Linked DNA regions of Homo sapiens: region 2 is linked to region 1. Evidence: fine-mapped expression QTL. A gene starts in region 1. The other region holds a variant in brackets. All regions are shown on one strand. Distances are between the middles of the regions. Region 1 holds the start of CDK5RAP1 (CDK5RAP1 mitochondrial tRNA methylthiotransferase). Region 2 has its middle 25 kb from the start of RALY.

What was found.
Region 2: its variant is fine-mapped to the expression of CDK5RAP1 in monocytes after R848 (Quach 2016, PIP 0.95).

Annotation. Positions count from the first base shown.
Region 1 is chr20:33,393,861-33,407,661 of GRCh38, forward strand. CDK5RAP1 (CDK5RAP1 mitochondrial tRNA methylthiotransferase) reads right to left here and starts at 7,659. Exons shown (of 14, transcript NM_016408.4): 1 at 7,568-7,659; 2 at 2,901-3,224; 3 at 1,153-1,256; 4 at 172-206. The coding sequence starts at 3,204. LOC124904889 (a long non-coding RNA gene) reads left to right here and starts at 7,722. Exons shown (of 2, transcript XR_007067567.1): 1 at 7,722-7,815. RefSeq lists enhancers at 7,370-7,459, 7,600-7,799.
Region 2 is chr20:33,961,081-33,977,632 of GRCh38, forward strand. It overlaps the pseudogene PIGPP3. Among named protein-coding and RNA genes, the nearest start is that of RALY, 25 kb to the right of the region's middle. The variant G/A (reference allele first, on the strand shown) is at 7,891.

The DNA.
Region 1 (13,801 bases):
CCCAGCCAATGTCAGCCAGTTGTATAAAGACTATCTCCACTGTGGGAAAACTGCAAGTCCTACTGCCATGGGGCCACTGGCTCATCTCCATAGACAGCCAGGCCAGGCACTGTTAGCTCTGGCATTATTACATAAAATACATTCACTCCTAGGAAAAGAACAAATTCGCACCTGATAGAGCATGTGACAAGGAGAATCACATCTGCCTGAATGGAAAGAAAGGAAAACAAGGAAAATTACATAATATCTTGGATATTAGCCTTGTACAATTCCTGCCCTACAGCTCTTTATTATTTTTTTTTCCTTTTTTTTTTTTTGAGACAGAGTCTCACTCTGTTTCCCAGGCTGGAGTGCAGTGGGGCAATCTCAGCTCACTGCAACCTCCACCTCCCGAGCGGTTCAAGCAATTCTCCTGCCTCAGCCTGGGATTACAGGTGCCCACCACCACGCCCAGTTAATTTTTGTATTTTTAGTAGAGATGGGGTTTTACCATGTTAGCCAAGCTGGTCTCGAACTCCTGACCTCAAGTGATTCACCTGCCTTGGTCTCCCAAAATGCTAGGATTACAGGCATGAGCCACTACACCCGGCCTATTATTTTTCTTTAACTATTTTTTTCCTTTTTTTTTTTTTTTAATAGAGAAAGGAGTCTCGCTCACTTGCCCAGGCTGAAGAGCAATAGCATAACCATAGCTCACTGCAGCCTCAAACTCCTGTCTTCAAGCAATCCTCCTGCCTTGGCCTCCCAAAGTCCTGGGATTACAGGCATGGTGACCCACACCTGGACATTTTAACCATTTTTAAGGGTACAGTCCTGTGGCATTAAGAACATCTGCAATTTCATAACTACGCATTTTCCATAACTTTTTCATCTTCTGCAACTAAAACCCTGTACTCGTTAAACAGTAACTCTCCAACTTCCCTCTCCACAGCCAATTCTTAACTTAGCTCCTTGTCTGAAGGCGCACATCACCATAAAAGTTTCAAAAACAGCTGGAACAAAAGTACAACTCAGTCCCATGGTGAACACTTCACCCAAGGGAACTCTCTCTCACCAGGGGGCACCCTGCTCCTGAAACTACACCTAAGAACTGGCACAAATGCAGAATCTTGCCCAGGTCCAGGAAACAAAGGAAATAGGAAATGCATGTACCTCTTGGAGGTTACTGGTCCGCAGGTAGCCACTCTTCTGTAAGATGGACCAGGCTATCTCTGTGTCATTCACATTCATCTGGCAGCCATAGGTCTCGAGGTAGACTGCAGTGAGAGGTTGGGGGGAATCCATGGTAGACAGACAACAAGGGGTCTCGTGTCTCAAAAGGTCTCCTTCCCAAATGCTCTAGAAATATCTGAGGCATCTGGTTATCCACTAAGTCCCCTATTGCTTCAATCTTAAGATAACATAAATTGCCAGATGTACCCCCAAGTTAATGATAGACCTTCAGAACAAAAGAAATACCATATTAGGCTGGGCACAGTGGTTCATGCCTATAATCCCAGTACTTTGGGAGACTGAGACAGGAGGATTACTTAAGCCCAGGAGTTTGAGACCAGCCAGGGCAACATAGGGAGACCCTGTCTCTACAAAAAATTTAAAAATTAGGCAAGTGATACATGCCTGTGGTCCCAGCTACTCAGGAGGCTGAGGTAGAACTGCTCGAGCCCAGGAGACTGAGGCTGCCGTGAGCCATGATCACACCACTGCACTCAGCCTGGGCAATAGAGTGAGAACCTGTCTCAAACAAACAAAAAAATATACCACATTATATATCCACACCAATTACAAGCCATGTTATCTTTTAAATGGGGAAAACATGTACCTGAGAATCAAGGAAATATAGTTATAAAAACAATTAGAAAAGGAAGGACTAGGCCGAGGGTGGTGGCTCACGCCTGTAATCCCAGCACTTTGGGAGGCCAAGGCGGGCAGATCACTTGAGGTCAGGAGTTCGAGACCAGCCTAGCCAAAATGGTGAAACCCAGGTCTCCACTAAAAATACAAAAATCAGCCAGGTGTGGTGGCGTGCACCTGTAATCCCAGCTACTCAGGAGGCTGAGGCAGGAGAATCACTTGAAGCCAGGAGGCAGAGGTTGCAGTGAGCTGAGATCGCACCATTGTGCTCCAGCCTGGGCGACAGAGCGAGACTCAAAAAAAAACAAAAAAGAAAAGAAAAGGAAGGGCTAACTGATAGTGTTCATCAGCCTGAAGGGAAAATAAGTTTAAATCCACATGTTACACTCCTCCTCAAAATAAAGAGGTTTTCCAGCCTCTGGAAGTAGCAGCAGTGGCCAGAGGGTACATAAAGTCACAAAATTAAAATGAGGCATCTTCTTACAGTAACTTCATCTTAAATGAAAGCAAGGCTATATTATGAAGTAAAACTAATTTTGTACACAGTTGTAAGAATATGAATTTCACATTCTGGCAGCTTCAAACTATATTCCAAGATCAACCCCCGTCCCCACCAGCAGGTCTTATTTCCAGACTCCAATAAATTCCAACTAAAAGTTAAGAGCTGAATGATAATCAGCTTTTGATCAAATGATTCTCCCACCTCAGCCTCCTGAGTAGCTAGGACTACAGGTGCACACTATCATACCTGGCTAATTTTTTATTTTTTGTAGAGACAGTGTTTCACCATGTTACCCAGACTGTTCTTGAACTCCTGGGCTCAAGCAATCCACCCATCTTGGCCTCCCAAAGTGCTGGGATTACAGGCATGAGCCACCGTGACCAGTCGAGTTTCTTGATATTAATATTACTTGGTGGAGTCTAATGATTCCCACAGCCTTCCCACACTGTTAACCTTCCAAGCCAGTTCTGTAATAAAAGAATCATGCCAGGAATGACAGAGAGGAGCAAGGCAGGAAGCCCAAAGGGATAAGCGAAGTAAAACCAACCTTTTCTCTGCCTTCCAAGAAGTTCATCCATCATGAGATAGGGAGGTGGGTCTTCCACTTCTGAAGACAGCTTCTCCTGAGGAGCTGAGGCACTTTTTAAAAAATGTTGAAAAGTCGGTCCAGCAGCCAGCCTGGAGCTGAAATCCTTCCGAGCTCCATCCTCCTGCCTCTCTGGACTGGGACACATGGTACTAGAGAGACTGCTGTGTGCCCTGCACATCCTCAGCGACAGCCAAGACACAGAGGCCAATGGTCCCCACCCCAGAGACCTCTGCACTTGGAGGACACACTGTAAAGGGTGCATGGCACTAAACAGCCCACAGTCTGCAAAAGAATGACAGACATCACCAGCATTTATTGAACACTATGGACAGGACACTGCTGTGAGCACTTCAAGTGTATACATCTATTTACCCCTCACAAAAGCCCATGAAGAAGGTACTCCTAATAATATGACCTCTGTTTTACAGTTGAAAAAAACTGAGGCAACTTGCCCAAGACCACACAAAGGAGTGCCAGAGATGAGATGCAAATCCAGGCAGTCTTTTCAAAACAAGGGGTGGTAGAGATGAGATGGAAAGCCCTGACAAAATGACAAAATAGCACCTTGTGCCAAGACCAGTTCCCAAGGCTTTAAGTGTATTAACTCATTAAATCTTTACAGCAATCCTAGGAAGCAGATACTATTATTGTTCCTATTCCGAAAGACATAGGTTGAGGAACTCACCTAAGCTCCTACAGCCAGTAAGCAGTCAAACAAGGACTCAGATAAAAATCTGTATGGATGCAAAGCCCGTGCCACTACCCATCTTGCTACACTGCCTCTTAATAAAGTGAAAACCACTCACTGTCTGAGGGCATCTTCCTTTGAGTTCCTTCAGAAGGAAAGCAACTAATGTGAGGGCATTGTATGCCCGATCAGTGACTCCTTCTACCCTTCAAGAGTCTTGGCTGGATGCAGCCGCTCATGCCTGTAATCCCAGGACTTTGGGAGGCCGAGGCAGGAGGATCACTTGAGGTCAGGAGTTCAAGACCAGCCTGACCAACATGGCAAAACCCCATTTCTACTAAAAATACAAAAGTTAGCCAGATGTGGTAGCAAGTGCCTATAGTCCCAACTACTCAGGAGGCTGAGACAGGAGAATCACTGGAACCCAGGAAGCAGAAGTTGCTATGAACCGAGATCGCACCACTGCACTACAGTTTGGACAACAGAGCGAAACTCCATCTCAAAACAAAAAAAAAAGAGTTTCAAACTACTACCTTCAAACTTTCCACCCAGACCCTCTCACACTTGGCTTAGCAAATAACACAACCTTTATAGAGAACAATTTGCCACTTTCCATCAAAATTACAAGTGTGCAAACCATCTGACAAAGCATTTCCACTCATAATTATCCTGCAGATAAATCTATACACATACAAAATGACCTATGTATAAAGACATTCAGTCTAGGCACAGTGGCTCATGCCTGTAATCCCAGCACTTTGGGACGCTGAGGCTGGTGGATCACTTCAGGCCAGGAGTTCGAGACCAGCCTGGCCAACACAGTGAAACCTCATCTCTACTAAAAATACAAAAAATTAGCTGGATGTGGTGGCACACACCTGTATTCTAAGATACCCGGGAGACTGAGGCATGAGAATCTCTTGAGCTCAGGAGGAGAAGGTTGCAGTGAGCCAAGATCACGCCACTGCACTCTAGCCTGGGCAACAGAGTGAGACTGTCTCAAAAAATAAAAATAAAAGATATTCAATGCAACAGTGTTTCTAATAGCAAAGGAAAGGGAAAGATCTAAATGTTATCAATAAAGGACTAGTTAAGTAAGTTCTGGTGCATCCATACAATGAAACAAGATACAACTGTTAGAAACCAAGGCTGGTGGCCGGGTGCAGTGGCTCATGCCTATAATCCCAGCATTTTGGGAAGCTGAGACAGAAACATCACTTGAGCCAGGAATTCGAGACCAGCCTGGGCAACATAGTGAGACCTCATCTCTATAAAAATAACAAAAAATAGCCGAGCACAGTGATGCACACCTGTAGTCCCAGCTACTCAGGAGGTTGAGATGAAAGGATTGCTTGAGCCCAGGAGATCAATGCTGCAGTAAGCCATAATCGCACCACTGCACTCCAGCCTGGGTGACAGAGTAAGACCCTATCTCAAAAAAATAAAAATAAAAATAAATGAGGCTGAACCTATACATGACAAAGGCAAGGAAGCAATATGCTCCATGCTACCTACATTATACTACTGTTGAATCTGTGGGGAAAGAGGGTGGGAATATTGAGGTACCTATTTGCAGGTACATACAATATCTCTAGAATGCATAAGAAACAATAGTTGCCTCCCAGGAAGACTTAGGTGACTAAGGTATAGGAGATGAAGCCATACTATTTACTTTTTTTTTTTTTAATTTTCTGACTAAGGAAGAATTCTAGGATCACCATATATTTTTACTGGACCCCACATCTATGGCCTACTACACTCCAGCCATGCCACACTTCTTTGTATTAATCTTCACTAGCTTATAGGATTTTACACATGCTGTTCTCTGGCTGGTATTTATCTTCTCTCTAGTGGCCTATGGTACTTTCAGCTTTCTTCCTCTGGGAAGCCTGCTCTGGCCATCACCCCCGAAGTCTAGGTGGGGTCCTCCTCTGGGTTCCCAAAGCTCTATTCTATCTCTCCATCACAAGACTCATCACACTTTGCTGTTAATTATTACTGACACTTCTGCCAGCCCTAGTAAACTGGCAGGTTCCTGCAAGCAGGGAACAAGTATCATTCATTTCTACACCTTCACCATCTCCCATTGTGGTAGCTGCCTCACGGCAGGTGCTAAACATCAGTGGTTCCCAACCTTTTTGGTACTAGGAATTGGTTTCATGGAAGACAATTTTTCCACAGACATGGAAGCAGGGGTGTGTTGAAACTGTTCCACCTCAGGCATTTAGATTCTTACAAGGAGCATGCAATCTTGAGCCAGTGCGGTGGCTGACATCTATAATCCCAGCACTTTGGGAGGCCGAGGCAGGCGGATTGTTTGAGCTCAGGAGTTCGAGACCAGCCTGGGCAACATGGCAAGACCATGTTTATTTGTTGTCTCTACAACAAATTAAAAAATAAAAAATTAGCCAGCCATTGTGGTATGTGCCTGTAATCCCAGCAACTTGGGAAGCTGAGGTAGGAGGATCACTTGAGCCAGGGAGGCAGAGATTGCAGTGAGCTGAGATTGCGCCACCACACTCCAGCCTGGGCAACAGAGAGAGAGAGAACTTGTCTCAAAAAAAAGGAAATGGAATGCACAAACTAGATGCCTTGCATATACGCAGTTCACAATAGGGTTTGTGTTCCTGAGAAACTAATTCCGTGGCCAATCTGACGGGAGGCAGAGCTCAGGCAGTAATGCCAGCTTTGCTGCTCACCTCCTGCTGTGCAACCCGGTTCCTCACAGGCCACAGACAGGTACCATTCTACCACCTAGGGTTAGGGGAACCCTGCTATACACGTGTAAAGAGCAGATGTGGCCCATTACCTTTCCAATGAGATGACCTGCCACATCTGCTACTAGCACTTAGGAGCAATGCCAACCCAGTTTCAAGAGTCAGAGAAGAACAGCCTTAAAGTGTGAACTTTAAAATCGCCCCTTTCTACTCCATAATTGCTGTGTGACCTTTGGCAAGACAAATTTCTGTCTCTGAGCCGCCAATTCCACATGTGTAAAATAAGGATAAAAGCAGCACCTACCACCCCATAAGTGTTATTAAGAATAAGATATTAAAAACCCAACTTGAGATACAGTAAGCGTTCACTAACTGCACATTTACAGCCCACACCCCCTTTCACAGAGAGTATTAGAGCATCCTGGTTAAGAGTATGAACTCCACTAAAAATACAAAACTTAGCCGGGTGTGGTGGTATGCGCCTGTAATCCTAGCTACCCAGGAGGCTGAGGCAGGAGAATCGCTGGAACTCGCGGGGCAGGGGCTACAGTGAGCCGAGATCGCGTCACTGCACTCCAGCCTGGGCGACAGAGCAAGACTCCCGTCTCAAGAAAAAAAAAGTATGGACCCTGGAGTCAGAATCTGACCCCACTGCTGCCAAGCCAGCTAAACCTTAGGCACCTGTCTTAAACTCTGGGAGCCTCTAGATGGGGATAATAGCACCTATCTCCATAAGCCTACCGTAGGATCAAATGCAATAATACAAGCAAAATGCTTTGCATAACGCAATGTAGAAGCCTCTCTGGAGGCTCGAAATTAATTCTGACAGTCGGCAATGAGGCTGGAACAACAGCGTACAACATCCCAAACATTTTATTGGCTGGTTACAATGCGTTAGGCATGGTGCAAAGCATTTTCCGCGAATTATTACCTATAACCCTCATAGCAACCCTGTGAGGCAGGCTGTACTGTCAACCCCACTTCACGGGTGGCGAAGCGAAGCCTTGAAAGAAGTGGAGGTGACCTGTCCAAGGTCACACGGGGTTAGGCGGCGGGGTTAGGGTACGAACCCCTACAGCCTGACGCCAGGCCCCACGCCATAACCACCGTGCCATCCTCCCTCTTGAACACCGTGCGCTTCCCGGGATCCGCGGCCCCTCCTGCCCCAGGCGCCAGTCAAAAGCGGGTGCGCAGCCCACCCCGGCGGCCGCGCTGCTCACCTCCCGCAGCAGCAACAGTGCCCGGGGTCCCGCAGCGTAAGTTCTGCCGGCAAGTCGGATCCCCTCACAGGTCCGCCGCTGCGTTCATACACAAGCGACTTCCGTTCCGCCGCTACTTCAGGCCGGGTCATGCTAACGGAAGTGCTTCCTTTTTACAGTCCGGGTGGACCCAAAGCTCCGTGGCGGTGCTGAACTTTAGGGCAGCCACTAGCCACGGACTTAAGCGGCAATTGAGCTCCTCAAAGTGGGTGAGTGCAAATCAAATGTGCGCTAAATGTCAGATACACTGGATGTGGAAGAAGAAATGTCAAATAGTGTCAAATAGTTCATATATATAATGTTTATATTGATTATGTGCTGCAATAATTGTTGGGATATATTGGATTAAATAAGTACATTTGTTGAATTAGTTTTTTTTATTTGTAGCTATGGTGGTAGAAATATTTGAATTAAGTTCACCTGTTGTTTCTTTTTACTTTTTCAATGTGGCTAGCAGGGGGAAAAATAATATGGTGTGATCATGGCTCACTGCAGCTTCCGCCTCCCATGCTAAAGCAATCCTCCCACCTCACACTCCCAAGTGGCTGGGACTACAGGCAGGCGCCACCACGCCCAGCTAAAATTTTTTTAATTTTTTTGTAGAGACCGGTCTCCCCATGTTGCCCAGGCTGGTCTCAAACTCCTACCTAGGCGCAAGCCATCCTCCCACCTTGGCCTCCCAAAGTGCTGGGATTGTAGGCATGAGCCACCGTGTCCGGTCCTTACTGGGAAATTTTAAGTCACCTAAGAGGTTCACGCTCTATTTCTATTGGAGGGTGCTGCCCTGTAGGTTAATGACTTCCTGATTCACATCTCCAGCTGGACCCTCCCTGCAGTACCAGAGCCATAGCTCAGCTGCCTACTTGACACCCCTTCTTGAGTGTCTGATGACCATCTCTAACTTATACAGAACTCTTCATTTCCACACATGCACCTTCACCAAAAACCTGTACCTGTCATTCTGGCCCATCTCAGTAAATGGCCCAACCATCCTTCCAGGTGCACTAGGAGGAACTGAATGGTCATTTTCTTCACCTCCCTGGATCCCCACATTCTATCTGTCAGTAAGCCCTGTCAACTCTAACTCCAAAATGTCAAATCTGTCTACTCGGTAGCTACAACTACCCAGGCCACCATTGTCTCATCAGAAACAATCACAGTAGCCTGCTAATGGTCACCTTGTCTCCTGAGAACAGTTTCCCACACATAGCCTAAGGGAATTTGTGTTTGTTTTATTAAATCAAATTATATCACCCCTCTCCTGAAAACTCTCCGTGGCAGGCCGGGCGTGGTGGCTCACATCTGTAATCCCAGCACTTTGGGAGGCCAAGATGGGCAGATTGCTTGAGCCCAGGAGTTCTAGACTAGCCTGAGCAACATGATAAAACCCCATCTCTACAAAAAACACAAAAATTACCCCGGCATGGTGGTGGGTACCTGTGGTCCCAGCTACTCAGAAGGCTGAGGCAGGGAGGATTGCTTGAGCCAGGGAAGTTGAGGCGGCAGTGAACCATGACCTCAACACTGCACTCCAGCCTGGGTACCAGAATGAGACCATGTCTTGAAAAAGAAAAAAACAAAAACAGCCGGGCACGGTGGCTTATGCCTGTAATCCCAGCACTTTGGGAGGCTGAGGTGGGTGGATCATGAGGTCAGGAATTCGAGACCAGCCTGGCCAATATGGTAAAACCCCGTCTCTACTAAAAATAAAAAATAAAAAATAGCTGGGCATGGTGCCGCGTGCCTGTAGTCCCAGCTACTCGGGAGGCTGAGGCAGGACAATTGCTTGAACCCAGGAAGCGGAGATTGCAGTGAGCCAAGATCGAGCCACTGCACTCCAGCCTGGGCGACAGAGCAAGACTCCATCTCAAAAAAAAAAAAAAAAAGAAAAGAAAAGAAAAAAACAAAAACAAAAAGCTTAAGAGCTTTCCATTGCCCGTGCAATAAAATCCAGATTTCCTACTGTATCCTAGGGGCCTGCATGATGTGGCCCCTGCTTTTTTTTTTTGAGACGACGTCTCACTCACTCTGTCGCCCAGGCTGGAGTGCAGTAGTGCAATCTCGGCTCACTGCAACATCCGCCTCCCAGGTTAAAGCGACTCTCCTGCCTCAGCCTCCCGAGTAGCTGGGATTACAGGCGTGCACCACCACGTCAAACTAATTTTTGTATTTTTAGTAGAGCAGGGTTTCACCATGTTGGCCAGATTGGTCTCAAACTCCTGGCCTCAAGTGATCCGCCCACCTCGACCTCCTAAAGTGCTAGGATTAGAGGCGAGCACCACCACGCCCGGCTGATTTTTGTTTTTACTAGAGATGGGTTTTCGCCATGTTGGCCAGGCTGGTCTCAAACTCCTGGCCTCAAGTGATCCTCCCACCTCAGCCTGCCAAAGTGCTGGAATTACAAGCATGAGCCACCATGTCTGGCCCCCTGCTTACTTTTACTTCTCCAACCCATGTACTTCTTACCACTTACTTCTCCTACTGTGTTCTTTCTAGTTGACTATACTTCAACTACATAATTTTATCTTGCTCCTTCAATAACCCAAGCAAATGTTTATTTCAGACCCTCTGTCCTTTTTTTTTTTTCTTTTCTTTTTTGAGACGGAGTCTTGCTCTGTTACCCAGGCTGGAGTGCAATGGCGTGATGTTGGCTCACTACAACCTCCACCTCTCGGGTTCAAGCAATTATCCTGCCACAGCCTCCCAAGTAGCTAGGATTACAGGCACGCAACACCATGCCCACAGAGCTTCTCTTCTTACTATTATCTTTCTGGAATGCTCTTCTCCAAAATTGTTTCGTGGCTGGCCCCTTCTCATCCTTTAGGTCTCAGCATAAATATCAGCTCTTCAGAGAGACCCTCTCTGACCACTTCATATAAACTACTCTATCACTTCTCTTATTATTTTCTTCACCATATTTGTCACTATTCAAAATGTTGGCATTACTTATTTTCTTATCATTGCCTATTCCCTGGACTATCAGCTAGGGAGGGACACGTCGTGTCTTGTTCATGGCTTTATCCCCATGATCTACACAGGGTCTGACTCATAGAAGGGCTTAATGAAAATTTGTTGAATGAATAAATGACTGCTTTCTGTCTTAGTTTGGGCTCCCCAGAAGCAGACCTGAGACAAGTATTTTTTTTTTTTTAGACCAAGTCTCACTCTGTTACACAGGCTGGAGTGTAGTGGCCCAATCTTGGCTCACTGCAACCTCCACCACCCGGGTTCAAGCGATTCTCCTGCCTCAGCCTCCTGAGTAACTGGGATTACAGGCAAGCGCCACCACACCCGGCTAATTTTTGTATTTTTAGTAGAAACAGGGTTTCACCATATTGGCCAGACTGGTCTCTAACTCCCCACCTGCGGTGATCCACCCACCTTGGCCTCCCAAAGTGCTGGGATTACAGGCATGAGCTACTGTGCCCGGCTACTGAGACAAGTATTTGAGTGCAGGTAGTTGATTTGCAAAGTAATCTCAGGAAACACTGGTAGGGTAGTAGGGGAGTGAAACAGGGAGGGGAGACAGCCAATAAACATTGTTAACAAGCAACTTTCTTGCAGGCATCTAGGTCTTAATCCTGCTGGAGAACACTGGGAAATAATGCAGAACACTGTGCTGGTTAATTATTTGTGTCAACTTGACTGGGCCACAGGTTGCCCAGATATCTAGTTAAACGTTATTTCTGGGTGTTTCTTGAGGAAGAGATTAGCTTTGGTGGACTGAGTAGAGTAGACTACCCTCCACAATCTGGATGGACATCATCTAACCCCTTGGGGACCCAAATAGGACAGGAAGACAGAGCAAGGTTGAATTCTCTGTCTGCCTGACTGCTTAAGCTGAGACATTGGTCTTCTCCTGCCCTTGGACTGGGACTTAAACACCATTGGCACTCCTGATTCTCAGTCTTTTAGATTCAAACTGGAATTTACACCACCACCTTTCCTCGGTGTGCAGCTTGCAGATGGCAAATTGTAGGACTTCTCAGCCTCTATAATCACTTGATCCAATTCCTTATGATAAATCTCATTCTAGATGTAGAAATATACATATAGTGGCCAGGCACAGTGGCTCATATCTGTAATCCCAGCACTTTGGGAGGCCAAGGTGGGAAGATCACTGGAGGTCAGGAGTTCGAGACCAGCCTGGCCAACATGGTGAAACCACATCTCTAATAAAAATGCAAAAATTATGGCCAGGCGCAGTGGCTCACACCTGTAATCCCAGCACTTTAGGAAGCCGAGGCAGGCGGATCACCTGAGGTCAGGAGTTCAAGACCAGCCTGGCCAACATGGTGAAACCCCCGTCTCTACTAAAAATACAAAAAAATTAGCCGGGCATGGTGGCGAGCGCCTGTAATCCCAGCTGCTCAGGAGGCTGAGGCAAGAGAATTGCTTGAGGCCAAGACAGGAGGATTGCTTGAGTTCAGGAGTGTGAGACCAGCCTGAGTAACATGGCAAGACCCCATCTCTACAACAAATTAAAAAATAAAAAATTAGCCAGCCATGGTGGCACAGTCCTATAGTCTTAGCAACTTGGGAGGCTGAGGTAGGAGGATCACTTGAGCCTGGGAGGCCGAGACTGCAGTAAGCTGGGATCCCGCAACTGCACTCCAGCCTGGGCAACAAAGCGAGACCCCACCTCCAAAACAAAAAATAGGGCGGAGGGTGGTGTTCCAAGTGAAGGCACCAGACTGCTGATGGCCAGAAGGAAAAGGAGTGAGTCTTTGGTGGTTTGGGATGTTGCTGAAAATTTAGTGGATAAGCTGAGAAAATTTCATTTTCACAAAGAAACAATGCTACCATTGTAAGTAAGCTAAAAGTGATTGCCTCAAAGTTAAGTTACCTGGTCTCTCTTTTTTTTTTTTTTGAGACAGAGTCACGCTCTGGGGCCCAGGCCGGAGTGCAGTAGCGCAATCTCTGCTCGCTGCAAACTCCACCTCCAGGGTTCAAATGATTCTCCTGTCTCAGCCTCCCGAGTAGCTGAGATTACAAGTGCACACCACCATATCTGGCTAATTTGTTGTTGTTGTTGTTTGTTTTGTTTGTTTTTTTGAGACCGAGTCTCACTCTGTTACCCAGGCTGGAGTGCAGTGGCCGCGATCTCAGCTCACCGCAACCTTCACCTCCCAGGTTCAAGCAATTCTCCTGCCTCAGCCTCCTGAGTAGCTGGGATTACAGGCAGGTGCCACCATGCCCGGCTAATTTTTGTATTTTTAGTAGCAACAGGGTTTCACCATGTTGGCCAGGCTGGTCTTGAACTCCTGACCTCAGGTGATCCGCCCACCTCAGCCTCCCAGAGTGCTGGGATTACAGGCATGAGCCATCACACCAGGCACATCATCTTTGTTTTATCTTGTCGCTACATTAAAGAAACTGAACCTTTCAAAAGTTTAAAAAAAAAAAAGTTCTGGGCTTGGCACGGTGTCCTAGCACTTTGGGAAGCTGATGCAGGAGGATCACTTGAGGTCAGGAGTTTAAAACCAGCCTGGCCAACATGGTGAAACCCTATCTCTACTAAAAATACAAAACATTAGTGGGGCATGGTGGTGGGCGCCTGTAATCCCAGCTACTCAGGAGGCTGAGGCAGGAGAATCGCTTGAACCGGGAGGTGGATGTTGCAGTGAGATGAGACCCTGCCTGGGTGACAGAGCAAGACTCCGTCTCAAAAAAAAAAAAGTTCTCCATCATTGCCATTGTCATTGTGATTTTAGGTAGGGAGTCATAACCACTGCCCACTCACATCCAGCCAGCACATCGCAGTTTCCGAAGTACCAAACACATTCCACTCCACCTCCCTTCTGCAGGAAAGGGTCCTGAAGCTCTCTAAGATGGCTTTGACATGGGTCCACAAATTCTTTGACATTCCTTTCTTCAAGAGGTGGAGCCTAATTCCCCTCCCTTTGAGTGTGGACTGAACTTAGTGACTCATTTCTAATGAATAGAACAAAGCAGAAGCAACAGTGTAAGGCTTCCAAGACCGGGTCATAAGAGGCACTGTTTGTGGCTTCCTCCTTGCCCTCTCTTCTGTCTCACTGTGGGGAAAGCCAACTGCCATATCATGAGAAAACTCAAGCAGCAGCTCTAGGGTTAGCCCTACATGGTGAGGAACTGAGACCTCCTACCCACAGCCATGTGCATGAGCAGTATTGGAATGGATCCTCCAGCCCCAGTCAAGCCTTCAGATGACTGCAG
Region 2 (16,552 bases), 570 kb after region 1:
CGGGATTTTGAGACCATCCTGGGCAACATGGTGAAATCCTGTCTTTACTAAAAATACAAAAAATAGCTGGGCGTGGTGGTGCACACCTGTAGTCCCAGCTACCCTGGGAGACTGAGGCACGAGAATCGCTTGAACCCCAGGAGGCAGAGGTTGCACTGAGCTGAGATTGCGCCACTGCACTCCGGCCTGGGCTGGAGACAGAGTGAGCCTCTGTCTCCAAATAATAATAATAATAATAATAATAATAATAATAATAATAATAATAAATAAAATAAAATATCGCTGGGCTCGGTGGCTCACGCCTGTAATCCTAGCACTTTGGGAGGCCAAGGTGGGTGGATCACCTGAGGTCAAGAGTTTGAGACCAGCTTGGCCAACAGGGTAAAACCTCATCTCTACTAAAAAAAAAAAAAAAAAGCCTGGCCTTGGTGGCATGGGCCTGTAATCCCAGCTACTTGGAAGGCTGAGGCAGGAGAATTGCTTGAACCCGAAAGGCAGAGGTTGCAGTGAGCTGAGATCACGCCACTGTGCTCCAGTCTGGGTAACAGAGTGAGACTCCACCTCAAAAAATAAATAAATAAATAAATAAATAAAATAATCTATAGCAGTTGTTATCTACAGTTGAGGAATAGTTTACAACTGTTCCATATACAAACTTATAGGTTGCAAGTCCCCTGTAATGTCCATTATTTTATTGAATCCTTTTTAAACAGTCCTATAGGGGAAGGCAAGGATTAGAATCAGTATTTTATGGGTGAGAAAACTGAGGTTCAACAGAGTTCAGTGACTTGTTCAAGATGACACAGCTAGGCCAGGTGTGGTGGCTCACGCCTGTAACCTCAGCACTTTGGGAGGCCAAGGCTGGTGGAACACTTGAGGTCAGGAGTTCAAGACCATTCAAGACCAGCCTGGACAACATGGTGAAACCCCATCTCTACTAAAAATACAAAAAACTAGCCGGGTATGGTGGCTCAGGCCTGTAGTCCCAGCTACTTGAGAGGCTGAGGCATGAGAATCACTTGAACCCGGGAGGCAGATGTTGCAGTGAGCCGAGATCGTGCCGCTGCACTCCAGCCTGTGCCACAGAGTGAGACTGCATTTCAAGAAAAGAGATCACACAGCTAGTTTGAGACTCAAAGCCAGCTTTGTCTATGGCTAGATGGTGCCTAGCACAGGAATCTAAAGGAAGCATGGTTACATTTAGAGTTTTTGGAGAGAACATGTAGCCAGAGGGACAGTAGGTGAGTGTGAATTAGGCACCCAAAGCGAGCTCGGGTCCCGAGTTGAGACCCGGGAGCATCAGTGAGCCCTCTTAGTGTGGGTCTTTTCTTCATTCTTATCGGCAGCTCCTCTGCTCAGATCTGCTTCTTTCATCAACTAATACTCACAACTCTCTCATTTCCAGACACTTTCCTTTAATTGTGTGTGGGATCATACACAGTATCAGGGAAAACTATCGATAGCAAGCCTGATTATAGACACTGTGAAATTAGCAAAGAGAGAAGAGGTTTTGTTTTGTTTTGTTTACCATTTGTTTAACATATGAGATCTGCTTACCCGTGGTGTCAATGCCTGTAACAATTATACATGTAACCCAGATGTTCCCCAGGGTCTCTCACCACAGGCAAGCTCAGTAAGATGGACTTAGATTCCATTTCCATGGCCTATATGTCCACAGAGCCCTTCCCAAGAGTCTGGAGACCTTAGGGGACTCATATGCTCAGTAACATTGCCTCTGGGGTCCTGGTTCTGGCATGAATCTCTATGACCCAGATGTGAAACTCAGCCACACTCTCAGACAAATAACCAAAAACATTCATGGGTATAATTAGATTTTTTCTCAGTTGGTAAAAATCTTAAATACAGAAAAAACAGAGAGCTGTCTAACAAATACCCATGCCCTCCAACTCTTTGAATTTAATGTTATTATTTTACAGGATCGGCTTTTGATTGTTTTAATCTAATAGGGTTAAAAGTGACATCTCTTACGTATGCCTTCCTTCCCAGAGGAATCCACCATAGGGAATTTGGTGTCTGTCCTTCCAAATCTTGTTTTTATACTTTTACTCATATAATGTATCCATAAATGTTTGTCTTATGTGTTTTTATAATGCTATCATATTTCATTTTCTGCAAGTTGCTTTTTTATGCAATAGTGTGTGTTTTTTCTTTGTTTATTTGTTTTTGAGACAGAGTCTCGCTCTATTGCCTCAGCCCCCCAAGTAGCTGAGATTACAGGTGTGTGCCACCATGCCCTGCTAATTTTTTGTATTTTTAGTAGAAACAAGGTTTCACCATGTTGCCCAGGCTGGTCTTGAGCTCCTGAGCTCAGGCAATCTGCCCGCTTCAGCCTCCCAAAGTGCTGGGATTACAGGTGTGAGCCACCGCGCCCGGCCTGGTTCCTGTTTTCGTAAGGAGATTGGAATGAGATGCAAATAAACAGAGAAGTGATTATATCTAAGAAATACAAACAAGTCTGTCTGCTGCCCTCACTACATGGACATAGACCCACCAGGCAATTCCACCTGCTGCTTCAACTCATATTATTCCCAGTCATTTACCTTCTGGCTGGCAACCTTCTCCTCCTTACCTACTTTTAATGCTCCTACCCCCATTCTGTTCTCTCTGCCTTCTTCGCAGGGGCAAAAGATAAATTCCTCCCATTTTCTCATGGAAAGCTCTTAATCATCTCTTCTGTTACTAGGGGCCTGGTGCTCCTGCCTCCAGTTTGTGGTTCCTCAAACACAGTTCCTTCTTGTATCAGTTAAGGATTGCAACATAGCAAGCCCACCCCAAAACTTAACTGTCTTAAAACAGTACTACTTATTAGCTCTTGAATCTCTGGGTCAGCAGTTTCGCCTGGACTCAGCTAGGTATTATTTCTGGTCTTGGCTAGGTTCATTCAGGCACTGTCGTTAGCCAGGTGGCTCTGCTTCAGGGATTGGTTGACTGTCAGCTGGGGCAACAGCAGTGACTTGACCACTCGTCTCTCCTGCTCCTGCAGGATAGCCAGGGCCTGTTCTCACAGTAGCAGCAGGACTCCAAGAGTGACAGAAGAAGCATGCAAGGCTTCTGGAGGTTCAGGCTCAGAACTGGCACAATGTCACCTCTGCCTCATTCTATTGACCAAAGCAAGTCACAGGCCAGCTTAGATTCAAGATGTCAAAAAATAAACTCCATCTCTTGATTGGAGAAGCTGCAAAGTCACATTCTAAGGGGCCCGGAAACAAGGAGGAGGGGAGGACTGTGGGTTGGATTCTCTGGGAAGCCAACTCTGAGATAGAGATTAACATGCAGGAAGTTACTCAGGGAGTGCTCTTGGGATCAACACCGGTGGAAGAGCAGAGAAGGAAGCAGGATGGAGCAGAGGGAGAAATTGAAGTGCAATGTCAGAACAAAGGCTTCCACTGACCTCATGGAGACCTCTAAAACTGGAATAGGTCTTCCAAGTTGTCCTGAGTAGAGGCAAGGGGACCAGGCCTCTAAGCTCCCAAGCTGATCAATCATTTATGCAGACTGCCCTGAAAAGGCAGCTGCCAAGGAAATTCCCAAAGAGGGCTTAGAGCCAAGGATCATCTGCCAACACTTTTCCCAGTAGCAGGTGGAATAAATCCTTCATTCCTCAGTGGGGGAGGAGGGTTGCCTGTGCCGAACATCACAGTCCACTCCACTGCCACCTCTCCCTAAGAATGCTAATGCTCATGATAAAACGCTTGTCACTTGCTGTATATGTATACGTTAAATATTTATAATCACTTATTAAATGCATCGCCTAACTTGTACAGATTTTAGATGATCACAATGCTAAATGTCACTCCTTTGAACTTAGTCTTCATAGTTTCATTGCTCATTTATCTAGGTCATCCACTCAAAACTTTAAGGATGAGGAGAAACAGCTTCTCCCATCAGAAATCTAGGCAAGAGGCGCTCACTGGCTCCCAACCAGCGGGAGGGTCGTCGTGTGCCTGCGCCTGGGTTGGGGGAGCCTTCGCGCCTAGGCCTTTCCCTCAATTTTTCCTCTTTCCCCCTCGCCCCGCACTGGGGCTTCCTGGTCGGCGCTTGCACAGGGAACTCAGTGCTGAGATTGTCTCAAGCCCCAGGAAAAATGGTGGAAAATTCACTGTCACCATTGCCAGAAAGACCGATTTATGGCCTTCTGCTTCTCTTAAGCTCCCAATTTGGCTTCATACTTTACCTCGTGTAGGCTTCTATTCCTGAATCTTGGCTAAACTCCTTAGGTTTAACCTATTGGCCTCAAAAATATTGGACAGTTGCATTACCTCTCTACTTCCTTATTACTATAGTAATTGGCTATGTGCTCTTGTTTGTACCCCATTCACTCGACTCCATTCGTACAATCACAGATAACTATGCTAAAAATCAACAGCAGAAGAAATACTAAGAGGAGGCCATTCCAGCATTAAGAGCTATTTCTATTTAGTGAAGTAAACCAAATTTTCTTTCTTGTAGCCAAAGACCTTTACACCAAAAACTGAAATGTACCTGGCCATACTAATGAGAGGTGAAGCTGGCTGGGCTTCTGGGTCGGGTGGGGACTTGGAGAACTTTTCTGCACTGACGGGGAGTGTCTGCAGCTTCATTCCTGAAGTCAGCGAGACCACCAGCCGACCGGAAAGAAGAAACAACTCCCGATGTGCCACCTTTATGAACTATAACACTCACTGTGAAGGTCTGCGGCTTCACTCCTAAAGTCAGCGAGATCACAAACCCACGGGAAGGAAGAAACTCTGGACACATCTGAACATCTGAAGGAACAAACTCCAGACATACCGTCTTTAAGAACTGTAACCCTCACCGCGAAGGTCCGCGGCTTCATTCTTAAAGTCAGCGAGACCAAGAACCCGCTGGAGGGAATAAATTCCGGACACACTAACACCAAGCATTTATTTATTTATAAGTTTTTGCCATCGTAATTTTGACCATAAATTAATTCAACCATCTCTCTTATTAATAGAGGAGATGTAAAAATTGTAAATTGATCTTCTCTTAGATTATGTTCAATGAATATTGTAAGTGTTCTCATGTATTGTTAATGAACAGAATAAAATACAGCATTACCATTAAAAAAAAAATAAGTCTAGGCAAGAACCATTTCAAGCCATGCTGGCAACAGAGTCACCAGACTGCAGTTAAGGTAGAGACACGATGTTCTTTGTAGTTCTTTGTAGAGAGAAGGACTAAGATCTGGGTCATGGAGAGATGATCACTCAACAGGGAATGCGGGAAGCTAGAGTAAAATTTGGCTGGCAGACCAAGTCGTGAGAGGAAAAAGAGACCAAATGAGGCTTTGAAAGATAAATAAACAGGCCGGGCGTGGTGGCTCACACCTGTAATCCCAGCGTTTTGGGAGGCCGAGGTGGGCAGATCGCCTGAGGTCAGGAGTTCGAGACCAGCTTGGCCAACAGGGTGAAACCCCGCCTCTACTAAAAATACAAAAAAATTAGCCAGGTGTGGTGGCAGGCGCCTGTAATCCCAGCTACTCAGGAGGCTGAGGCAGGAGAATCACTTGAACCTGGGAGTCGGAGGTTGCAATGAGCCGAGATCGCACCATTGCACTCCAGCCTGAGCAATGAGTGAGACTCTGTCTCGAAAGAGAGAGAGAGAGAAAGAAAGAAACAACCCACCCCACGAGGGCAGCTCTTGATATCTGGGAAGACAGTTCATGCCTTACAGAGGCAAGTTGCTTGTTTGGCAAAATTCCAGGAGAGCCGTCAAATCAGAATTTGGGGACCTGGATGGAGAATTGATTTCACCTGCAACAAAGGCGACTCCCTGTGACCACATAGAAAAGACTCTGCTTTTTGGAAACCAAAGGCTGTGACCTTCACATGCAGGCTTATAGATAGGAACAAATTAACAGGTCAGGCCAAAAAGGAGGAGATGTCAGCAGTGGCCAGTTGGAAAGTTCTGGGAGAACCACAAAATGCCAGAGTCTCTCAATTAAAGTGGAAAAACCGGCTTAGAGTGATTCAATGGTAAGATCAGGATCATGCCATGGGTTGTTAGCTATTCTGTTTAGCTCTCCAGATCTACCCTTCGCCCTCTCCACCAGTGGTGCTGTGTCCCAGAGATTCACTTTAATGGAATATGTCGAAAGGATTCTTTACTCCCTGGCTTTCTATTGGGTTTGCTCAATGGGAGACACGTGCAGGATACTAGAGGATGGAAGAAGAGAGAAATGAGGGTATTTATTTACCCAGCTCCCCCGCCACTGGGGCCAAGGACTGGAACTATCATGGAAAACCGTTTTCTCAACTTCAACTCTTTCCACATTCACGGAAGCACTCCTTCTCCCTGCCTCTTTAGGCCTGGACCCATAATGTACCCCCCTCAACTGTTGCAGTCTCTGGGGTGCTTCCCCCATTCCCGTTGGCTTCCCTTAACGATTGTTACAACTTTATAAATACTTTCCTGGCCAGGTGGGGTGGCTCACACCTGTAATCCCAGAACTTTGGGAGGGTGAAGCAGGAGGATCGCTTGAGTCTGGGAGGTCAAGGCTGCAGTGAGCTGTGATCACACCACTGCACTCCAGCCTGGAAAACAGACTGAGACCTTGTCTCAAAAAAATAAATAAATATTTTCCTTGATCACTGCACTTGAGTGCTATCTCTTTTTTGATGCAATTCTAAATGCTAATCACTTGAGCTAGCTTATTGAAAAGGGGACACTGTGAATTTTTATGGATAGTTGTTCCTTTTGGCTGTCCAGCCTCAGAAACACATACTCATGTCTGAAGAATTTCCCATCATATGAGTCTTGGTGGGAAGTAGAGCTCACTTCCCCACATAGAATGTGGCAGTGCTAGCTATTTGCTTTTCAGCCTCCCTTGCAGCTAAGGTTTGGGCAAGTGACCTAGGCTCAGCCAGTCAGAAGCATAAACCAAACTTTGAATGAGGAGTCGGTAATATAAAGACATAAGGACAGTGCTGGGCATAGTGGCTCATGCCTGTAATCCTAGCACTTTGGGAGGCTGAGGCAGGTGGATTTCTTGAGGCCAGGAGTTTGAGACCAGCCTGGCCAACATAGTGAAACCCCATCTCTACTAAAAAATTTAAAAAAACTAGCTAGGTGTGGTGGTGCGCACCTATAGTCCCAGCTACTTGGGAGGCTGAGGCAGGAGAATCACCTGAACCTGGGAGATGGAGGTTGCAGTGAGCCAAGATCATGCTACTGCACTCCAGCCTGGGCAACAGAGTGAGACTCTATTTTTTTATTTTTTATTTTTTAAATTTTATTTATTTATTTATTTATTTTTGAGATGGAGTGTTGCTCTGTCACCCAGGCTGGAGTGTAGTGGCACAATCTTGGCTCACTGCAACCTCTGCCTCCTGGGTTCAAGCGATTCTCCTGCCTCAGCCTCCTGAGTAGCTGGGATTATAGGTGCACACCACCATGGCTGGGTACTTTTTGTATTTTTAGTAGAGGCGAGGTTTCTCCATGTTGGCCAGGCTGGTCTTGAACTCCTGACTTCAAGTGATCCGGCCACCTCAGCCTCCCGAAGTGCTGGGATTACAGGCGTGAGCCACTGTGCCCGGCCGAGACTCTGTCTCTAAACAAAAGAAAACACAACACAATACAACAACAACAACAACAACCCAACCCAAACCAAACCAATAAAACAAAAACTTCCACTTAAATCTTAAAAAAAAAAAAAAAGAAAGACACAGGGACAGTGGAGAGGTAGTCTGGTGGTGGTGGCCATAGAAGCAGCAATATCCTGTCTCTGGGGCAGCCTGGGCAGTAGGGCCAGTGACTGTTCCTAGCATGCAGATGTGGAGCTTTAGCAGAGTCAGAGAGGCAAGTGGAAGGGTCTGGTACTCTGCACTGGAGGCAGCAGGGTCCTCACAGGCCCTGTGTTTCTGCCATTGC[G/A]GTGTCCAGGTCTGGTTCTTCAGCCTTCCCAGCAATGCCAAAAGCTCTCTGGTATCTTTTCTACTGATTCCTCTCCTGCTTAAATCTACCACAGTCAGTTTCTGTTGCTTGCATTATGAATCCCAACTTGTGGTTTGCGTGCAACCCAAATGTGGGCTACAGCTAGGCTTCACAGGGAAATAGAAAACAGGGGCCCAGGCAGCTACTCCCTCTGCCTCCCACTTTGGTGCCTCAATTTCTCTCTCTCTATCTGTCTCTTTCTCTGTCTCTCTCAATACAACTGCCACATACTTCTTTCCAGCTGTGGTTTTGTCTTAATTCATGGAAAGACATTATAGCTTACTGTTTAGGAAGCACCCACTTTGAGGTCAGAATGCCTGGATTCAAATCTCAGATGTACAGTTTACCATCCACAAGGTTTTGGTCAAGTTACTGATCCTCTTTGGGCTCTGTTTCCTCATCTGTACAATGAGGACAACAGTTTTCCTGTTTTGAGGATGAAATCACACAACGTGTGTAAAGCCCTCACCAAGCTATTAGGCCACAGGAGCCATCAGTAATTGTTGCTATTGTTATCTTCATTATCAGCATTATTATCAGCACGGTTTGGGGACTTATAGAGACTACTTAAAGCAGGCATCTTAAACTTCAAATGCCTACAGGAGCCAACAGGGATGATGAAAAGGAGCCATGTATAGAACACAGGCACACACATTTTCCATAGTCCCAAGGGAAGCTCTCCCAAGGGACTGTAAAAATTGTGCGAGTGTGTGCCTGTCTAGAGGGGGCAGCCATTTCCCAGCCACAGCCATTTATTGCCATGTGGAATGTGAGCCCGGTGATGCCAGATTTTCCACTATTTCAAGAGAGGTCAGATATCCAGCTATTTGGGGTAAGCTTGATGTTTTTCAAAAATCTAAAAAAGCACTATCCTGGCCAAAGGAAACCTTCCTGGGGCCACAGCAGGCTGCAAACGCTAATTTCTATGTTCTAATGCAAATTTCTGGATTGAGTTGAAATTGTCAGGGAGGGAAAGTGGTTAGGCCAGGTTAATTTCATTGGCTCAATCAGGTATGGCCATGGCCCACCACTCACCCAGTGGGGAATGTGGTGGACACTCTGACTGTGGGGTGTGGGCAGGAATGTAGTCATAGGCATACTTTAGAGAAGGAGGCAAGGACCAAAGGGGTGCCCCAAGAGTTGCTTTCCTATGGATGCCAGCACATTAAAAACAAACGCATCAGGAATGCAATAAGTCCCGATAAGTGCAAGGTTAAGAGTGAGGCTTGTTTATCTTGTTATTTATTTAAATAACAGTGTGTCTGGCGGTAGGGCATAACAGGACTAGCACAAAGGCTCAGATATATCCATGTGATTCCAGATTATTTCCACCCTTTCACACCTCCATCCTAGCATGTAGGCCTTTGTCCTCATACTTTTCACCTCATGGTTGCAAGATGGCTGCAATTGTGACCATCACAACTATGTTCCAGGCAGAGGGAGAGGAAATGAGAAGGAGTAACTAATGGCCCTTATGTCAGGACTTTGCAGAAATCCCCAGCATATATATATTTTTTCATCTTATTGGCCACAGCTAGTTCCCATACCCATACCTAGTGACAAAAGAAATTATGGAGGTGAGTATTTTTAGCTTGGTACATTGCAGCCCCAAAGAACATCAAGGTTTTTAAAAACCCTATTTTGGAAACAAGGAGAGAATAACCTGGAGTAGGAAATCAGCAGCCTCTGCCACCTTCTCTGAATATGCACCATGTGCCAGACCCCAGCTAAGTACTGGGATATCAGGCTAACAGTCCCAGTCTGCACAGCAGAAAGATACAGAAGTGGGCCTGGTGCAGTGGCTCACGCCTGTAATCCCAGCACTTTGGGAGGCCAAAGCAGGCAGATCACCTGAGGCCAAGAGTTTGAGACCAGCCTGTCCAACATGGCGAAACCCTGTCTTTACTAAAAATACAAAAAATTAGCCAGGCATGGTGGTATGCATCTGTAGTCCCAGCTACTTGGGAGGCTGAGGCAGGCGAATCACTTGAACCCAGGAGGCAGAGGCTATGGTGAGCCGAGATCGCACCATTGCACTCCAGCCTGGGCAACATGAGCAGAACTCTGTCTCAAAAAAAAAAAAAAAAAAAAAAAAGAGAGATACAGAAGTTGTTGTGGAACCCAACACAGCTGGGCCGGGTTCCAAAGTGAGAAAATCAGCGCTTTGGCTCCTTACAGATCTTCTAGGCCTCCCATCCTTCCTGCCCCTTCCCTGCCCCTCCTGCTGTCAGCGCAGTCCCACAAAGGGCAGAGTAGGGTGGAAACAATGTGTGATTAACACCAGTAGCAGTTTCAGGAGGCATCCAAGAGATGTTCCAGAGAGAAATATGTAACTGGCACATCTGGTTTATAATGTGTATTAATTCCTGACATGTAGTTTGAGTAATATATGTAAAGCAAAAAGTCCAAGTGTTGATTTAGGGGCCTTATTATTACTCTGTCAGCAGAATTCATGTTCTATTTGTGCAGTGCTCTGGGCCCAGCACCTCACCTAGGGCAGCAGGAAGGGGAAGGCTTTCTCATGGGTGCCAGTGGATGGTGGAGGCCCCTGCTGATGGTGATAGGGATGTGGATGAGTACTTGGAGCCCCTGGTAGGGTTGGCAGAAGCTCATCTGGCAAAGAAGATCGTGGAGCTAGACCAAGTGCCAGCTGAGGCTAGAAGCAGAGGCATCCTACCCCTCAGAGGCAGAAGTAGCTTAAAGTCTAGAAAACTGTGGGCTGTGGAGTTCAAAGCCAGCTCTGCCACTTCATTGCCATGTGACTTTGAGTAAGTTATTCCAGCTCTCTGAGCCTCAATTTCTGCTCCCATAAATGAGAACCATAATAACGCCTACCTAACAGGGCTGCTGTGAGGTTTAAATAAAAACAACAGGTGCTGAGAATTTACTATGGGTCAGCGTAGTGTTGCAAGTGTTTGACATGTATTATCTCATTGAATCCTCACAGTAATCTCATGTAGATACTATTATGATGCCCAATTTACAGTTGAAGAAATGCGGCACAGAGAGGTGAAGTAACTTGCTCAGGGTCACACAGCTAGTGACTGGCAGAGCTGGGGTTCATACCTAGACAATCTAGCCCCAGAGAACACTCACTGAGATGTTTCAACAGACAGCTATATTTTATAGTAAGCACACAGTAAAGGGTAATTCTCTAGGTCAGTGATGTCCAATGGACCTTTCTGTGATGAAAATGTTTTGTAATTCTGTGCTGTCCAATACACGAGCCACTAGCCACAGATGACTATTTAACATTTGAAATATGGCTAGCTTGACTAAGGATGTGAATTTTTAATTTAATTTAATGTTAATTAACTTAAATTTAAATAGCCAGGCTGGGCACAGAGGCTTACGCCTGTAATCCCAGCACTTTGGGATGCCAAGGCAGGTGGATCACTTGAGTCCAGGAGTTCGAGAGCAGCCTGGGCAATATGGTAAAACCCTGTCTCTACTGAAAATACAAAAATTAGCTGGGCATGTTGGCACACGCCTGTAATCCCAGCTACTTGAGAGGCTGAGGCACGAGAATCACTTGAGCCTGCGAGGCGGAGGTTGCAGTGAGCTGAGATGGTGCCACTGCATTCCAGCCTGGGTGATGGAGTGAGACCCTGTCTCAAAAAAAAAAAAAAAAGAAGAAGAAGAAGAAATAATTTTGAATATTGAACCAGCCTTGCATACCTGAACAAAATCTCACTTAGTCATGGTGTATAATTCTTTTTATCTATCGCTGGATTTGATTAGCTAATATTTTGTTGAGGACTTTTACATCCAAGTTCATGAGAGCTGTTGGTTTGTAGTGTGCCTTCTTCTTTCCACCCTTGAGAATCTTCCTAGGTTTGCTGTGTTGTGTCCAGGGATTTTTAGTTTTTAGGGAGAGGACCTGGGAGAAATGGAGCTATTCCATGTTGGTGGAACTGGAAATCCCACACATTCTTTTTTTACATATATGTACTATTATACAGATGTGCTGCAATGGATTAAACCAATTTCCTGGTTAACACTTAGATTCTTTCTAATTATTTGTCGTTGTGAACAATGCCACAATGAATAAGTTTATGCATTTGTCATTTCATACTTAAAGGTAAAGGTGCTATTGTAAATTCTCAGAAATGGAATTGTTGGGACAAAGAGCACATGTATTTTTAATTTTGATGTTTCCAAATTATCTTCTATAGGTATTGCACCAACTTATATTCCTTATTCTCCTGAGACTGCCATGCCCCCTCCACTGACTCTCTGCCGACAGATAACATGTTAGGGTCTTGCTAATCTGATAGTTTAAAAAAAGTGAAATTTATCTGAGTTTTGAGTCATAATTAGGTAGGCCTTTTCCATGCCCTCAAAATAAAGGAATTTTCCTATGTTTTCTTTTAGTGTCTTTACTTTTTTTTTTTTTTTTTTTTAGACAGAGTCTTGCTCTGTTGCCAAGGCTGGAATGCAGTGGCGTGATCTCGGCTCACTGCAACCTCCAGCTCCCGAGTTCAAGCGATTCTCCTGCCTCAGCCTCCCGAGTAGCTGGGGCTACAGGCGCGTGCCACCACGCCTGGCTAATTTTTATATTTTTGGTAGAGACGGGGTTTCACCATGTTGACCAGGCTGGTCTCGAACTCCTGACCTCAGGTGATCCGTCCGCCTCGGCCTCCCGAGGTGCGGGGATTACAGATGTGAGCCACTGTGCCCGGCCAACATCTTTACTTTTTTATTTGAATCTTTGATCCTTGTAGAAATTATCCTGAGCTGTATGTGGTGGCATGTACCTGTAGTTTCAGCTACTAAGGAGGCTGAGTCGAGAGAATTGCTTAAACCCAGGAGTTGGAATCTAGCCAGGCAGCATCACCAGAGTCCTGTCTATCTTTTAAAAATTCCCCTATCTTATCACCAGGAATTAGAGACCAAAAAAGAAAAAAAATTACCTGGTGAAGAGAGAGAGGAATAGATCTAACTTGTTGCTGTTGTTGCTTTCTATCATATGGGTACCCAGTTTTCCCGTCAACTCTCTTGAAACAGTCTATCTTATCTCCTCTGGTGTAAGATGCGACTATTATCATATACTTAATTCCTGTGTGTATTTTGGATGTATTCTAGGCTTTCTAGTCTATCCGGCTAGTTGTCTATCTATTCATACAACAACACTATACTGCTTTAATTATTATTTATAAAGATTGTATCTTTGATAGCGGTAGTCCTCTCTCATTCTTTTTCTTTTCTTATTTATTTATTTGTTTTATTGTTTCTTTTCTTTTTTTTTTTTTTTTTTTGAGACAGAGTTTCACTCTTGTTGCCCAGGCTGGAGTGCAATGGCATGATCTTGGCTCACCGCAACCTCCGAATCCCGGGTTCAAGCGATTCTCCTGCCTCAGCCTCCCGAGTAGCTGGGATTACAGGCATGAGCCACCACGCCCAGCTAATTTTGTATTTTTAGTAGAGACGGGGTTCCTCTATGTTGGTCAAGCTGGTCTCGAACTCCCGACCTCAGGTGACCCGCCCACCTCGGCCTCCCAAAGTACTGGGATTACAGGCGTGAGCCACTGCGCCTGGCCTTCTTTTTTCACTTTTTTGTAGAGATGAGAGTCTTGCTTTCTTGCCCAGGCTGCTCTTGAACTGGCCTCAAGGGATCCTCCTACTTCAGCCTCCCAATGTGCTAAGATTACAGCTGTGAGCCACCACACCCAGCCTTCTTATTTACATTTTTAAAGTTAACTGTAAAACATCCTCAAGCAGGTCCTTCAGGAGGTATTCCTGAAGAAGGCATTGTTATCATAGGAGTTGACAGCTCCATGTATGTATTGCCGCCGAAGACCTTCCAGTGGCATGAGATGTGGGTGGACCTGGAATATGATGATATTGATGATCCTGATCCTGTGTGGGCCTAGGCCAATGTGTGTGTTTGTGTCCTAGTTTTTAATTTAAAAGTTTAAAAAATAAAAACAAAAACCTTCAGAATCAAAAAAGCTTATAGAATAAGCATATAAAGAAGGAAAATAGTTTTGTGGAGCTGTACAATTTGTTTGTGTTTTAAGCTATGTATTACAAAACAGTCAATAGGTTTTTAAAATTTTTTAAGTTTATAAAGTAAAAAAGTTACAGTGAACTAAATTTATTTTTTAAGAAAAAAGATACTTTTCATACATTTAGTGCAGCCTTAGTGTCCAGTGTTTATGAAGTCGACAGTAGTGTACAGTAATGTCCTAGGCCTTCACATTCAGTCACCACTCACCCACTGATGCACTTAGAGCAACTTCAGTCTTGCAAGCTCCATTCATGGTAAATGCCCTATAGAGGTGTACAATTGTATCTTTTATACCATATTTTTACTGTACCTTTTCTATGCTTAGATATGTTTATTTATTATTTATTTATCTGGGAGACAGGGTCTTGCTCTGTCGCCCAGGCTGGAGTGCAGTGGCGCAATCTCGGCTCACTGCAACCTCCGCTTCCTGGGTTCAAGTGATTCTCTTGCCTCAGCCTTCCGAGTAGCTGGGATTACAGGTGCGTGCCACCACACCTGACTAATTTTTGTATTTTTAGTAGAGATGGTGTTTCGCCATGTTGGCCAGGCTGGTCTTGAACTCCTGACTCAGGCGATCCACCTGCCTCAGGCTCCTAAAGTGCTGGGATTACAGGCGTGAGACACTGTGCCCAGCCAACTTAGATATGTTTAATTACACACACACTTCCCATTGTGTTATAATTGCCCATAGTATTCAGTATGGTAACATGCTGTATAGGCTTGTAGCCTAGAAGCAATAGGCTATACCATATATATGTCTATGGTATAGCAATAGGGTGTGTAGTGGGTTATACCATCTAGGTTTGCATAAGTGCACTCTATGATGTTCTTTGCACAAGGATGAAATAACCTAATGAAGCATTTCTCAATATTTATCCTCACGGTTAAGTGATGTATGACTATTTATATATATATATATATATATATATATGTGTGTGTGTGTGTGTGTGTATATATGTGTATATATATACACGTATATATATATATATATATATATATGTAGAGAGAGAGAGAGGGAGGGAGGGAGAGAGAGAGAGCACATAAGGACTGTGTATAATTATATATATTTTTTCCTTATGCCATATATATTAAAAAAGAAATATATATATATATATATTTTATTACTGAGTCATCTTATCCAAGAACATGACACGTTTTCCTATTGTTCAAATCTTTCATGTCCTTTGGTAATATTTTAAACTTTTCTTCATATAAATCTCGCACCTTTATTTCCAGGTATTTTGTAAAGAAGTGTTTAAATTTCTTCACAAATTGAATCTCTGCCTCTTTTTTGTTGCTATTGCAAATGGGATATCTTCTTCCTTTGTGTCTTCTGATTGACTATTGTTTGCATACATGAAAGCAGTTGATGTTTATTAATTCTTTACCATGTTATTCCGTGGAATTCATTTATTGTTGTCAGCAGTCTCGCAATTGATTCTCTTGGTGTTTTCAGTTACATAATCTTTTCCCCCAAATACTGATAGATTTATTTCCTCTTTTCCACATCAATGCCTATAAGATGACCTAATAAGAAGAGACCTCAGTTCCCTACCCTAATAGTCTATCTGGAAAAAAGATGTCTCAACAAATTAACCATAATAAAGATACAAAGGGCAGAGTCAAGACAAGAAGCAAAGGTATCTGGAATCCCAGTCTAAGTTCATTTGCAGTGTTCTATGCAGCCTACGAGGTGAGGGCCTGCCTGCCTCACCCTTCATTACTGTTGCTTCTCAAATAGCCAGCTTAGAGCTGCTTCTCAAAACCCAACCATAATTTTTCCAGACTGGGCTGAACCAATGAAACAAAATATCTAACTAACAGGGGAGGGGAGAAGAGGAAGGGTGGAAATCATGCTGGCTTTCTTGGGTTTGCACTATGGCTTCTGGCTAAAATCTTCACACCAGAGCTTGCCTAACCTTTCCATGGTCTCAGGAATGGGAGAATCTACCAGAAAGACCCAGAACCTTTGTGCAACAGATCTATGTCCAAGATATATCACTAAATAGCACATTCTTGTTACAAAACAATGTACCAAATAGGTTTATAATAATACTTTTCAAAAAAAGTATTTTTATTTTGAATAAAAATACTTTATTTTAAATAACATTTTATTTTAAAATATTTAAATACTTTATTTTTATTTCAAAATAAAATACATTTTTTTGAAAAGTATTGCTATATGCTGGTACACACATAGAAAAAGAGATCTAGAGGAAAATTAGTTAAGATGATGTCAAAAGCAGTTATGAGCCAGGTGCAGTGGCTCACACCTGTAATCCCAGCATTTTGGGAGGCCAAAGTGGGAGGACTGCTTGAGTTCAGTAGTTTGAGACTAGCCTGGGCAATGTAGAAAGACTTTATCTCTACAAAAAAATTAAAAAAAATAACTGGGCATGGTGGTGTGTGCCTGTAATCTCAGCTACTTGGGAGGCTGATGAGGGAGAATTGCTTGAATCCAGGCAGGTGAGGCTGCAGTAAGCCCTGATCATACCACTGCACTCTAGCCTAGGTGACAGAGCAAGATCCTGTCTCAAAAGAGAAAAAAAGAAAGAAAGCAGTTATGTCTAGAGATTGTGGCTGTGAAAGATG